4 linked regions of the Homo sapiens genome follow. The protein of the gene in region 1 purifies or fractionates together with the protein of each later gene. This does not show direct contact. Each region holds a gene or a part of one and is shown on either strand. Other genes may lie near its edges.

What was found. The genes of interacting proteins can lie anywhere in the genome.
Region 2: the proteins of IFT43 (region 1) and SENP8 purify together in Homo sapiens (affinity purification with mass spectrometry; 2 studies listed by BioGRID and IntAct, with this or other methods). This does not show direct contact.
Region 3: the proteins of IFT43 (region 1) and MYO9B purify together in Homo sapiens (affinity purification with mass spectrometry; one large-scale study listed by BioGRID and IntAct). This does not show direct contact.
Region 4: the proteins of IFT43 (region 1) and RGS20 purify together in Homo sapiens (affinity purification with mass spectrometry; one large-scale study listed by BioGRID and IntAct). This does not show direct contact.

What each region holds. Positions count from the first base shown.
Region 1 is NC_000014.9:76,081,667-76,084,479, reverse strand, and holds the end of IFT43 (intraflagellar transport protein 43 homolog), read right to left. Parts: intron 2,186-2,813; coding exon 2,113-2,185; intron 1,864-2,112; coding exon 1,788-1,863; intron 1,254-1,787; coding exon 1,191-1,253; intron 1,023-1,190; coding exon 903-1,022; 3' UTR 738-902; downstream 1-737. UniProt on the Homo sapiens protein: As a component of IFT complex A (IFT-A), a complex required for retrograde ciliary transport and entry into cilia of G protein-coupled receptors (GPCRs), it is involved in ciliogenesis.
Region 2 is NC_000015.10:72,121,117-72,124,902, reverse strand, and holds part of SENP8 (sentrin-specific protease 8), read right to left. Parts: intron 1-3,786. UniProt on the Homo sapiens protein: Protease that catalyzes two essential functions in the NEDD8 pathway: processing of full-length NEDD8 to its mature form and deconjugation of NEDD8 from targeted proteins such as cullins or p53.
Region 3 is NC_000019.10:17,078,491-17,082,276, reverse strand, and holds part of MYO9B (unconventional myosin-IXb), read right to left. Parts: intron 1-3,786. UniProt on the Homo sapiens protein: Myosins are actin-based motor molecules with ATPase activity. Unconventional myosins serve in intracellular movements. Binds actin with high affinity both in the absence and presence of ATP and its mechanochemical activity is inhibited by calcium ions.
Region 4 is NC_000008.11:53,956,552-53,959,803, forward strand, and holds the end of RGS20 (regulator of G-protein signaling 20), read left to right. Parts: intron 1-1,718; coding exon 1,719-1,907; 3' UTR 1,908-2,752; downstream 2,753-3,252. UniProt on the Homo sapiens protein: Inhibits signal transduction by increasing the GTPase activity of G protein alpha subunits thereby driving them into their inactive GDP-bound form.

The DNA of each region.
Region 1 (2,813 bases):
ATCCAAGAGAAGCAGGCAGCGAAGGGGCTCTGTCCTCAGATAAGAAGTCTCAGGGAGGAAAAGAGAAAAACAAAAACAAAAGACAGCTCTGTTTAGGAGAAGGGTGGGACTCTGCTCCTGATCTCAGCACATCTTGGAACCAGGCGGTTATAATACTTGCAGCGGTGGAGATGGCTGCAACGTATCTAAAAGGATAAGGAGAAGGGAGGCCCAGGCTCTGTAAGAGAGGGCTTCCATGGAATTCTCAGGGCTGCTGGCTGGCCCCTTCCCATGAGAATCAGAAATGAGGCTCTGGGAACCTGTAGAAGCTTTTGGAGCTCAAGGCATGGACTGCAGGAAGAGGGGAGAAAGGAGAATATTGTCACAACAGCCACCAAACCCTGATGCGAGTGAAGAATGAGTCTCCTTATCCCTCCCGCCGCCTCCTCCCTCCGCTGCAGCTGCCTGGAAGCCTATGATGCAGGTGGCAGTGCTGCGTCACTAAGGTCACAAAGGGCCCAGAGCACCCACGGGAAGGGAGGCCCCGCCCCAGAACCCCAGCAGGCAACTGTTTGAAACCTCCCGAGAAGTGAACAGCTTTCAGTAGGAGTGCCCACTCCTTCTCCGCCTGAATCGAACTCTCCCACATGCTCCGCAACAAGGCCGCGAGTTCTGAGTTCCTATCAGCTGGTTTAAAAGCTGTTCTCCTTCACTTGTGATACATTTTCCAAGAAGAGACTGGAAAGAAATGGAGGAGATGGCACAGAATAAGCAATTTATTGCAATTGAATTATCCAATGTGGTTGACTGAATATAAATATTTTTATTACAAAATATTCCAGGTAAAAATTCGGAGCTGCTTACAAGCTTCTTTAGCTTTAAGCTCATTGCATTTCTTCATGTCTAGAGCATGGGTGACGGGCTCAGGTGTGCCTGGCCTGCCCCGCAGGGTCCTCCTTCTCCGTCTGCAGTGGGTCCCACTCAGTGAGGACCTCTGAGGACACCTCAGTGAACAGATGGTCCCAGTCCCAGCCGACATCATCCTGCCAAGAAGGGTTTCGCTGGGTAAGACAAAGAAAGGCCTTTTCCCTCAACTGTAGCTGACTTCTCCCTCCCATCCAGGCCTCAGGGAGGCACAGGCCAGCCCGGGAGTCGGCTGGTTATGGGAATGCCAGAGCTGAGAGACCGGGGAATTGCTGCCACCACTGTACCTCCCGGACTTCGTGCTCCGGCGCGAGCACTTTGGTGAGGAGTTTCAGGTCGATCTCCCCATCCTGTGAATGCAAACAAAAAAAGGTCAGGCTGAGCACCTTGAGGGCTTTCAGGCAACTCTTTCTCACAAAACCGGGATCAGTTTTTGTGTGTCAGAACTTCCCAAACTGAGACCTGCAGGAATGCCTTCACAAGAGAGTAAAATCATGAATGAACCACATGCCCACTGAGAAATGAGGGAAGGCTATGCTTCCCACATGCTGGGCGTGCTTTGGGGCAAAGGACCATACCAGGAGGACCGAGTGTGACAGCAGTACAGCCACAGGGACAGAGGGGAGTGGGGTGCCATCAGGTGCCAAGTGGGCAGCCATGGAGGCAGGTGGGAGCCTGGCACTGAGAAACACTGTACTATGTTGGGTCCAGGGTTGCTGTGAGATGAATGATGATAAAACCTGCAGCAGAGGTATGGGTGCCAGGCAGGCAGCCTCAGGGGACTGGTGGAGGCGCTGTATAGCTTGGGAGGAACTGAGAAATCTCTACGGATTGAAGCCCATTGCTTGGAGCCCGCCTCTCTATGCAGAAGCTGTTCCACTCACCAGTGTCTGAATGGCTGAGTACTTCATGAGGTCATTGTCCAGGTCACGGTAGGTCATCACCCGCTTTATCTGGATGCTGAAGGAAAGAGAGAGCGAGAGGCGGGAACCCCAGGCAGGACCTGTTCCAGGAGTGCTGCCGGGCCACCGTCCCCAGAACCTTGTATACAGCAGGGGATGACCAGAATGGGAATAACAAAATGGGAACCCTGGATGGAGCCCAACACCAGAAAGATCCAGATTGACATCAAGGTCCACTATAGATGATATCTGGAGTGTATTAATTCACGTGTTCTTTGCCTCCCCAATCATATCTGATTTAACCTACCTGGGAGGGGCTGCCACCTGCAAAACAAAGTCTTCTTCCTGTACTTCCTCCAGATCCGGAATGATAGGAATATCTGCAAGGAGAGGCAGAGGCAACACTGTCTGCAGAACTCATAGGGATTGTGCCTGCTTCTCCACTTCTTACTCATTCCCCTTCAACACACCAGCCATGGGGCTGTGGGCTGGGGCAGGAAGGACACTCAGATACAAACTAGGGGTAGGATCAAAGGTGGAGTTTCAACGATGTCTGAATCCCAGGCCTCATTCCAGAACCTGCTGAGATAGAACCTCCTGGGTCACGCTCAAGCATCCAGATTTTTTTCCCAGGCGTTCCTTGGTGATTCTGACGCGTGCAACAGGTTAGAAGCCACTGCAGTGGATCTCCAAGGAGAAATGTAAAGAAATAAATGTAACAAAGGGCTTATTAGAGGAAAGAAGAGGAACTGACAAGTGAGCCTGGCATGGTCAGAGACAGAGGAACTGAGAACATGTAGTGTCACAAAGCGGATGCCGCAGTGAGTGCCACTCCTCATGACCCAGATCTCTATGTGCATTAGCCCCGCAGTGCAATCATCAGGGCCCTCAGCCTGCATCTCAAGGGCATCTTCCATCTAATGACATAGCCTGACTCCCTGGGATCCAGGCGTCCATTTGCCAGGTCTAATGTAATCAGGGATGCTGATTCTACAATCATGCTTTTCT
Region 2 (3,786 bases), on another chromosome or scaffold:
ATACAGAAAAATAATCAAGAACGATATCCATCAAGTGTAAATATCATTTTAAGAAATAGGATTAATACTTTTTTGCCTTTTTCCTTCTACCTTTTGATATTGTGCTTTAATTTTTCCCCCTTTTTTAATAATGAACACATAATTAGTAAATACAGTGATTTCCATATTGAAGAGGAATAAAAGATGTACCAGTTCCCACTCTTATAATGACATAAAATATTTCCATTTTTTCAACTTCTGAGTCTTACTTCTGTCCTCTGGATAAAACAGGTAAATCTAATCTCTTTTCCATAAATGTTCAAACACAAATATTTAAAAATAATTTGATGTTTACTAAAATTAGAAGATTATGTCCAACTTCTAATGTCTGATTCAACTTGCACTTTCACAAAAAGAATCACATCCAAGACCAAATATGCTTTTTATGGCAAAAATATTTCCAGGAAGGAAGTTCATGGCTTTTTTTTGGGGTTTCAATTTCCCCCCAATTAAAACGTTTCCTTTTAAAACTAAGCCTAAGCCATCTGGAGATCTGTATAATGTGGCATGTAAGAATGACCATCAAGATTTATTATATAACCCTCTTGAGTACACAGATTAGATTTTACTCATCCTTCTAACTTCAGTGCCTGACAAGCTAGAGTTTTAATAAATAAATATTTTTCCTGAGTGAGCAAAGTACAGAAGTGAAACATATCTTGAAAAACTCAGGAAAACACAACACAGTTATAAATGTAAGAAATATTCTCAATTTTATAAATGAGCTATGAATTTAAACAACATTCCTGTAACATCAATATTTCAGAGAGGAATTCAGCTCTCAAAGTACAAAACCTACTTGGTGTGATGATGATGCTTGGTAACTCTACTGCTATAAATTCCACTTTATTCTGTCTGGGGCCAAGGAGATAAAACAGGTGACTTTTTAGGATTTCATCTAACACCAAGGCTCTCCATTTATTGCTCTGTAACTAGGCACAGCTATCAATGGCTAAGGTGTCATTGACCATGAAAATAATTTTATTCCTGGTCTACCATTTCTACCTCAAGAGTTCCATTTGTAGGCTGGGTGCGGTGGCTCATGCCTGTAATCCCAGCACTTTGGGAGGCCAAGGCGGGTGGATCACCTGAGGTCGGGCGTTCTAGATCAGCCTGACCAACATGGAGAAACCCTGTCTCTACTAAAAATACAAAATTAGCCAGGCGTGGTAGTGTACAACTGTAATCCTAGCTACTCGGGAGGCTGAGGCAGGAGAATTGCTTGAACCCAGGAGGTGGCGGTTGTGGTGAGCCAAGAGCACGCCACTGCACTCCAGCCTGGGGAACAAGAGCAAAACTCCATCACAAAAAAAAAAAAAAAAGTTCCATTTGTAATTGTGTCACAGTTTTTGTCCTCAATATAAACCTGGTGTATACCAAGTTTTTCTTGTGGTGACTTTGTTTTGCTTCAAATTTTCTGAGAAATGACTTTACACAATTGCAAACTTTGAAATGACTAGGAGTGAGGGTCAGGTGTGGAGAGGCCATTAGAATTAATAAGACGTCTGTGTAAGATAATATTTTATAAAGGTGTAGACAGAACTTTATTTTAGTACATGTGGTAACAAAGTCTGATAAGGAGTGGTTAAAGCCATGATTTACCTCATTTCACAGATAATCACTGTGGTCAGCACATGGCAGCTCTATGCAAACACACTATTTGAAAGAACACAAAAAAGCTATGATCTTTTAATCTCATTTGTTCTAAGGATTTCAAATCCTGGCAAGTTATTTTTTTCATAGATAGTTAAGAGGTAAATTGTCATTACAAATTGCTCATTAGTGGGTTTCAAAAATGTGCCTGGCACATAGTAGAGGTTCAATAAATATCTAATGAATTAATGAGTAATGAATCACACGACTTTGAGAGTTTTATTCATTGGCCATCAGGGAAAGCAAGCCTAAGGTTTTCAAACAATAATACAGATGCTCAAAATAGTAACTATAGTTGGGACAAATTTTTTGGGATCAAGACAATGATCCAGTGCTTTTATAAGTTGATTGTGGAGTAAGCCATTTAATTGGGAGCCAGAGAAAGGAACTTTCAGAAATTTTCTGTAAGTAATAAAAATTATTAAAAAGCCTCATAAAAGTATTATTTCTGATTTCAGATAGACCCACTCCTCCTCCTCCCGCAAAAGGTGTCAGATAGCTGAACCTCAAGTTCTGCATAAACTTAATTCTTCCTATCACCACCCAAATGGCCTCCAATTATTTGATGGACAGAAAGTCAATATAGGCTAGTTATGTTGAAGAAGGTGGTAATGGTGGCCTCTCTGAGAACCTAGTTCTGGAAGTTAATTTTATAGGACTCATTTGGATCAGTAATACCTAAACCCCAAATTCAATTTTTTAGAATACATTTAAAAAGTACATACTTTGGGTACTAGCTGGATTTGAGCAGTAAGTTTCTATAGTCCGGTATTGATCAGTTTCAAAGGAGATGGGTTGCCTGGGCCTTGAGGACTTCACATTCTTTTGCTAATGTGTTTAAACTAAACTTCTTTCCCATCCAAGAAGTTTAAGGAATTGGCAAAAAGAGAGGAGTTCTGACTTTTAAAAGTCAGAAATGTAGGACTCACAGGTATAGACAGGTATATAGACAGTACATACTTTGGGTACTAGCTGGATTTGAGCAGTAAGTTTTTATAGTCCGGTATTGATCAGTTTCAAAGGAGATGGGTTGCCTGGGCCTTGAGGACCTCCCATTCTTTTGCTAATGTGTTTAAACTAAACTTCTTTCCCATCCAAGAAGTTTAAGGAATTGGCAAAAAGAGAGGAGTTCTGACTTTTAAAAGACAGAAATGTAGGACTCACAGGTATAGACAGGTTCTGACTTTTAAAAGTCAGAAATGTAGGACTCACAGGTATAGATGGAGTTTGACTGAGGAAGGCCTTGGCAAGATCTGTGAACTTATGGTAAGGCCATTGCTTTATTAGAAGTACTAACAATATCATTTATAATACAAAAGACTGGGCTAGCCTCTTGACCACATAAAGTTAACTGACTCCCACACTGGGGTATATATTCCTGTTGACAGGTATGCCATTTATTCCAATGTATGTTACTCTAGACTGGTCAGCACATTGTGGAAATAAAGGAATTTAGCAGACTCTAGAGATCACCTCAAGATTTTTTTTGGAGACAGGCTCTCTGTCACTCAGGCTGGAGTGCAGTGGCATGAACACTGCAGCCTCGACCTCCTGGGCTCATGTAATCCTCCTGCTTCAGTCTCCCGTGTAGATGGGACCACAGGCAGGCACCACTATGTCTGGCTAATTTTCTTTTTTTTTTTTTGGAGAGACACGGTCTCACTTTGTTGCCCAGGCTGGTCTTGAACTCCTGGGCTCAAGTGATCCTCCTGCCTCAGCCTCCCCAAGTGCTGGGATTACAGGCCTGAGCCACTGCACCTGGCCCAAGATTCCATTTTTCAAAAATTAATTAACTTATTGTTCTAGTCTCTTCATTCCTATCTTCTCTTTTGATAATCTAACCTGCACATTATTCTAGATTTTCAAACAGAACTCTAATCACATTATTCTACTCCAAAAAATTTTAACAACCCTCCATTGTCTACCAAAGTAACTACAAATTACAGCCTGGCATTCAATGATTTCCACAAAAATAGCCCCAATCTACCTTTCCTGATTTATTTTCTGGTATTACTCTCACAGACATATACACCCACAAGCTCAGTCCCTCTGCAGGCCCTGGTTATTAGGAAACAGTGGGATAGTACTGGTTGC
Region 3 (3,786 bases), on another chromosome or scaffold:
GCCTGCTGCCGGCACCTTCACAGACCCCACTGGGCTGTTAATTTGACTTCCATGCTCGTGACTCCTGGCTGAACATCTGAACAGAGGCGAGGGCTATTTCTGTTCTCCTCAGTCTCCCCAAGGGCCAGCTCTGAGCCTGGCTCCCAGCCAATACTTCCTTTTTGCTGAAGGATTTTAAGACCTTCCAGAAACTTCTTTTGTTCAATCACTTGTGACAGCAGTTGGTCCTAAGGTCACTTGGGTCCAAGAGTGTAGTTACTTTTGGATATTCCTTGCCCCTGACCCTGGCAATACTGAGAACAGAGATATACCCCCGCCCCATGCCCTGTTTGTAAACTTCATCCTGCTTCCCCACCAGGCACACGCAGCCTTGTGGACCTGGCCCTCAACACATCCCCTGTAAAATCCCATGGGACCCACTCCGCCCTGGGCTGGGTCCTCGCCTCTTTTTTTTTTTTTTTTTTTTGAGATGGGATCTTACTCTCTTGCCCAGGCTGGAGTGCAGTGGCACAAGATCACGGCTCACTGCAACCTCTGCCTCCTGGGTTCAAGCAATTCTTCTGCCTCAGCCACCCAAGCAGCTGGGATTACAGGTGTGTGCCACTACACCCAGCTAATTTTTGTATTTTTAGTAGAGACTGGGTTTCATCATGTTGGCCAGGCTGGTCTCAAACTCCTGACCTTAGGTGATCCTCCCACCTCGGCCTCCCAAAGTGCTGGGATTACAGGCGTAAGCCACTGCACCAGGCCTCTCACCTCTCTTTAGTCACCCCTGAATGTATGAGTGTGAGATCTGGAAAACAGGGAGCGTCCAAAATTGATGTGGCCAACCAACCTGCTCACCCTTAAAGTGTTTATTTAAAGGAGTGAGAAGAGACAAAATGGACCTATTCTCTATTGACACGATCATTTCCCTCCAGGTTCCTATATTATCTAAAAATGTAAGTTGAGGCCGGGCACGGTGGCTCACATCTGTTATCCCAGCACTTTGGGAGTCCGAGCGGGCTGATCACCTGATGTCAGGAGTTTAAGACCAGCCTGGTCAACACAATGAAAGCCCATCTCTACTAAAAATACAAAAAGTAGCTGGGCGTGGTGGCGCACGCCTGTAGTCCCAGCTACTCGGGAGGCTGAGGCAGGAGAATCACTTGAACCTGGGAGACAGAGGTTGCAGTGAGCTGAGATCGCGTCACTGCACCCCAGCCTGGGTGACAGAGTGAGACTCTGCCCCCGCCCCCAAAATAAATAAACAAATAAATAAAAATGTAATTTGAATTTGTCCTTTTCTCAGTATTATGGGCTGAGCTGTGTCCACCACTCCCCTCCACAAAGAAATATTCACATATTGAAATCCTAAACCTCAGAACTTCAGAGTATGAGTATATTTGGGATTTTTTTTTTTTTTAAGAGATGGGGGTGTCGTTCTGTCACCCAGGCTGGAATGCAGTGCCATGATCATAGCTCACTGTAGCCTCAAACTCCCAGGCTCAAGCGATCTGTCTGTCTCAGCTTCTTAAAGTGCTGGGACCACAGGCATTCACCATCATGTCTAGCTAATTTTAGTATTTTTTTGTAGAGATGGGATCTTGCTATGTTGTCCAGGCTGGTCTTAAACTCCTGGCCTCAAGTGATCCTCCTGCCTCAGCCTCCCAAAGGGCTGAGATTACAGGCGTGTGCCACCAAGCCTCGCCTAGAGACAGGGTCTTTATGGGGATGATTCAGTTAAAATGATGTCATTAGGGTGGGCCCCCTTCCATATGACTGCTGTCCTCATAAGAGGAAATTTGGACACAGAGACAGGCACAGAGGGAGGACGATGTGAAGACCCAGGGGAAGACGGCTATGTATGAGCCAACAGAGAGAGGCGTGGAACAGATTCTCACAGCCCTCCGAAGGCACGAACCCTGCCAACACCTTGATCTTGAATGTGATCTTAAACGTCTGGCCTCTAGAACTGCAAGCCAATATACTTCTGTCGTTCTGGCCACCCAGCGTGCGGTTCTGTTACAGCAGCCCTAGCAAACTCAGGCACCCAGCAACAACAGTCATGAAACACCCCTAGCGGGGCTCCTTCTCTTGCACATACAGCCCTGTGCAGCAGGGCAGAGATGGGTTTTAAACAAGTGAGTCAGACAAGGATATCTTATTCATCACTCCGACGAACCCATGGGCTGAACCCTTGAATCACTACTTTATTTATCATCGGGCTCGGGCTCAGAAAGTCTCGCTGAGGAAATGAGTAGAACCCAAACTCGTCAGCTGCATTTCTGAAACATGCCTAATCTCTGAGGCTCTTTCCCAGCCACGATAGAAATTGAAAGGGAACGGGGCTCTGGGCTGCGGCGGTGGGCTGGTGTGGAGACAGAGCCCTTTGTTCTGCCACTCCAGGGACCACGAGGGCAGAAGAGAAGGGCTTGTCTTGCTTTGCCGAGAGGCCGCCTGGGGCCGTCTGAATGGCCGGCCGAGCAGGGGCAGCCTGGCACAGCTGGGCTGGGGATGCCGGGCACACAAAGGGCTGGTGGGTGGGGTGTGGGGGCAGCACCCAGAAGGGACCGTCAGTCCCGTGGCCCCAGAGCGTCTCCTCCAATCAAGGTAAAGCAGCAAAGTCACGGTCAAGGAGGGGGCCAAGCAGGGAAGGGGACAGCAAGATGGACCAAGAACAAAAATTCAGCAGTATGTGCTTGGGAACGGGCGGGCGAAAGGGCCCATGGAAGAGATAATGCAGCTTACAAAAGCGACGTTTATCCGGGGCAACCTCCAAAGTAGCTCTTGGGAGAGAATCTAATACCTCTAATCTCAGAAGAAAAGCAACAGATCATTCTAAGACGAGGACAGTTCCTCCAGAAATCCAGGTCAGTCACAAGACAAAGAAAAGACAAGGGCACCCGCTGTCCACCCTCGGGCACGTTGCCTACCCTCCCACAGTCCGTTCCTAACGGTTCCTCCTTTTTATCAAGACCCGCTCCCTCCTGATTAAGAACTGACTGGATGGCAGGATTCAGTTCCTGGTCTCTGCCCCTGTTCCCACTCTTAGTGGCAGTTCCTCAGGGGCTCCACAAACACCAAGGACCCACCAAGGCAATGATGGGCCCTAGAGGGGAACCAGGTTTTACTAATGAGCATCACATTTCACCTGGCGGGGGAGGTGATTCTGCCCCCAGGGGACACGTGGCCATGGCTGGAGTCATTTTCAGTTGTTACCCCTTGGAGGGGATGGAATACTACTGGCATCTCATGGGTGACAGCCAGGGACACTATTCCACATTCTACAGTGCACAGCCCCAACTGTCAATGGTGATGCGGGTGAGAAACGGCCCTGGAGATTTGGGTTTCCCCAGTTAAAGGTTACTAAGGATCCTGCATGTTTCTAGAAAGCTCAAGGAACCATCTCTGAAGTCATCACCTGCCTGGGCCTGTTTCTGTATCAGGAAGATAAGAACAAGGACCCTCGCACTGCCGGTTGGCAGAATGAGAGAGCTGGGATGCCCTGTACAGGCCGGGCTTCAAAGGTATCTGCTTGTGCAATCCCTTCCACCCGGAGTGGTTTAACACGTGGTATCTTTCCAGGTTTGACCTGGGGCCAGCCACTACTTCCGAGGAAACTTGCTGGAATCCCCCTTGTCCTAAAGCTTGCATTGGTTGTCCCTAATTCTCCCCCCATAATATCTTGTGGCCCCTCTGTCACCGTACTGATGACCTGATCTGAATTCCATTCTTTTTTTTAATTATTATTATTTTTGAGGGCATCTTGCTCTGTCACCCAGACTGGAGTGCAATGGCGCAATC
Region 4 (3,252 bases), on another chromosome or scaffold:
GGATTTGAGGCAAACCCCACCGTCTCAAATGACTCCCATATGTCTGGTGTAGGCAGACCAGGTGGTGGGGTCGTTGGCTTACTTAATTTTGCGTCGTTACGTTTTGCTTTCTTAAGTTTGCGTTGTTAAATTGGTAATATTCAGTTGACATGTTTGAATACTGAGTCCAAAAAGTTATTTTCATTTTGAATTAATAAGGAGCAAGATAATTTTTGTCCTTTAATTTATGGCTTCCACATATTTTTATTTTGTCATGATTTTTTTTAAGGCAAGGTTTTTCATCAATCTTTTAAAGTATTATACAACCAAAAACAGGCCGGGCACAGTGGCTCACGCCTGTAATCCCAGCACTATGGGAGGCCGAAGCAGGCAGATCACCTTGTCTAGGAAGAGCCAAACATCAGAGCAATCAACATCTCCTATGGGCTTAGTGAAATCCAAGCACTTTGTCATTAAATCACAAAAAACCTAAGACATTACCATCATCATCATCCCCACTTCAGGGGAAGAGCTCACTAGGACACAGAGTTTACCTTGCCTGAGGCCCCACAGCTATACAGTGACAGGGATGGATTTTGTTTTGTTTTGTTTTTGAGATGGAGTCTCGCTCTGTTGCCCAGGCTGGAGTGCAGTGGCATGGTCTCGGCTCACTGCAACCTCTGCTTCCCAGGTTCAAGCGATTCTCCTGCCTCGGCCTCCCGAGTAGCTGGGATTACAGGCACCTGCCACCATGCCCAGCTAGTATTTTTTATTTTTAGTAGAGATGGGGTTTTGCCATGTTGGCCAGGCTGGTTTCGAACTCCACAGCGCTGGGATTACAGGCGTGAGCCACCATACCCAGGCAGGGCTGGAATTTAAACACAGGCATTGTCTGCCCTCAGGCCCTGTGATTGGAACCTTCCAGGGTTTTGAGTCAACTTCCACTTCACCCCTGTGCCCAACCCTCCGGGCAGGCCAGCACTCATCCCCAGAGCCCTGCCACTGTGGGCCAGCAGGGGAAGCCTGGGCCTCCAGGTGTCAGCCCCCACGTTACAAGGAAATGAGCAAGGGGCAGTCTGTGCTGCCTGTTTTCTTCAAAGCAGCAGTGTGAGCCCTGCCAGCATCACTTAGAACTTGTGGGAAATAACAAGCATCAGGGGCCCCTACACCTACTGAGTCTGGGGTGGGGCCCAGGAACCGCTCTCACAAGCCCTCTGGAGCCTGCTGATGCCACTGACATTTGAGAACTGCGTTGATTATGCTTTTGGTTTCTCTTTGGCAGTTTGGATTTTTTGGATGATCTTGTTTGGTTTGGGATATTTAAAAAACAACAAGGCCGGGCACAGTGGCTCATGCCTGTAATCCCAGCAGCTAGAGAGGCCGAGGCGGGCGGATAACCTGAGGTCAGGAGTTCGAAACCAACCAACACGGAGAAACCCCGTCTCTACTAAAAAAGTTAGCCGGGTGTGGTGGTGGGTGCCTGTAATCCCAGCTACTCGGGAGGCTGAGGTAGGAGAATTGCTTGAACCCAGGAGGCGGAGGTTGCACTGAGCTGAGATCGCGCCACTGCACTCCAGCCTGGGTGACAGAGTAAGACTCTGTCTCAAAACAAAACAAACAACAAAAAAACCAAAAACAAAAAACAAAAACAACAACAAAAATCCCCACAAGCTCTAGGAGTTTGGGATAGAGATACAACTGAAGTCTCTAATACAGCTCCTACTCGTTTCTGTCGACAGGTGAGCTTAGACTCCCGGGTGAGAGAAGTGATCAACAGAAACATGGTGGAGCCATCCCAACACATATTCGATGATGCTCAACTTCAGATTTACACCCTGATGCACAGAGACTCATATCCTCGATTCATGAACTCTGCTGTCTATAAGGACTTGCTTCAGTCCTTATCGGAGAAATCTATTGAAGCATAGGATTTTTCAAATATATTTATTATTAATAAAATAATAAAAGAATTCATGGGCTACAACTAGCACAGGGAATTTAGAGGTTGTAGCATCTTCTGCTGGAGTAATACTCAGGCTATTCTAATAACAGATGATTCCTTCAACAGACTGCTATATATTCACCATGTAAACTGCAGCCACCTTTAGTGATACTTTTGAAAAAAAAAAATAAAGGGATATGGCTGTTGTAGAAAGATAGCGTATTTGCATTTACAATAACAGTAGCATGTTGTCAGTGGCCAAGGCTACACAGAAGGCTCCCTGCTGCCCGGAGCAGGTACATCCACCAGAGCAAAGGGAACCACTTTTATTTTGCATGAGTTTGGTAACTGATTACTCTCCCCTCAAAGAAAAGACATTCAGGTGTTTCTCAACGACATCTTCTGTCCAGCAAGCTCGGTTTGAATACGTCACTTACCAGTGCCATTGCAGGACCCAAATTCACAGTTCATAAAAGATGTGACCACTACATGTAAAAATAGCATTCTACTTGATCTTACAGTATGTATGTATGTATGTATGGAGACATATGTGTGCGTGTGGATGTCTACATGGTTAATGGAAAGCACTGTGCTCTGAAGTGGATCAGTCTCAAGTGTCTGGTAACAGCAGCAGTGCTTAGAAAATTCTTTTGTTGAAAAGAGTTACTGTTATTATCAGAATTTGCCAACCTAAAGAATGAATTTTTAAATTCATAACTTGGTCATGTTCACAACAAAACTGTCAAATAAGCATATTTCCATTTTTATTACTGAAAGAAATATGGGCATTTTCATTCTTTAAAGAAATAAAGCACAAGAATTTTATCTCAATCTTTATTTTTCCATATGTACGTATTTGGGAAATAGAAGATTAAGAAAGTAGGGATACGTGCAGCCTATCTTTTAGCTCCCAGACTAGGATTCTGTCCTTAGATCCCACTATTTTTATCATAGATAAAAAGAATAACTTCTCACAGGTAAAACTACCAGTTGGTAGACCTAGACCATCCTGAAGAAATCCATCTCTACATAGAATAGGAAACACACTCAAAATCTGGGACGCTCTGAGTAGTGGGAAAGACGCTACTTTGCAGGAGGCGGCACCGTGCTCCTGCCCTCGAGGGGAATGGTTCTCCTCTGGGTCCTTCTCCCTCCCTGGCCCCTCCATAGCCTGCCTGTATCTTCATGACTCAACTCAAGCCCCAAACCCAAGCCCCTCTCCTTCATTCTCAGGAAACCATTTTACCTCCTACTCTACTATGCAAATTGTGTCCGTAAGTCCCCTCAACTTCCCGTGCAACCTATAAATATATATAGATCAGCGTCTATTC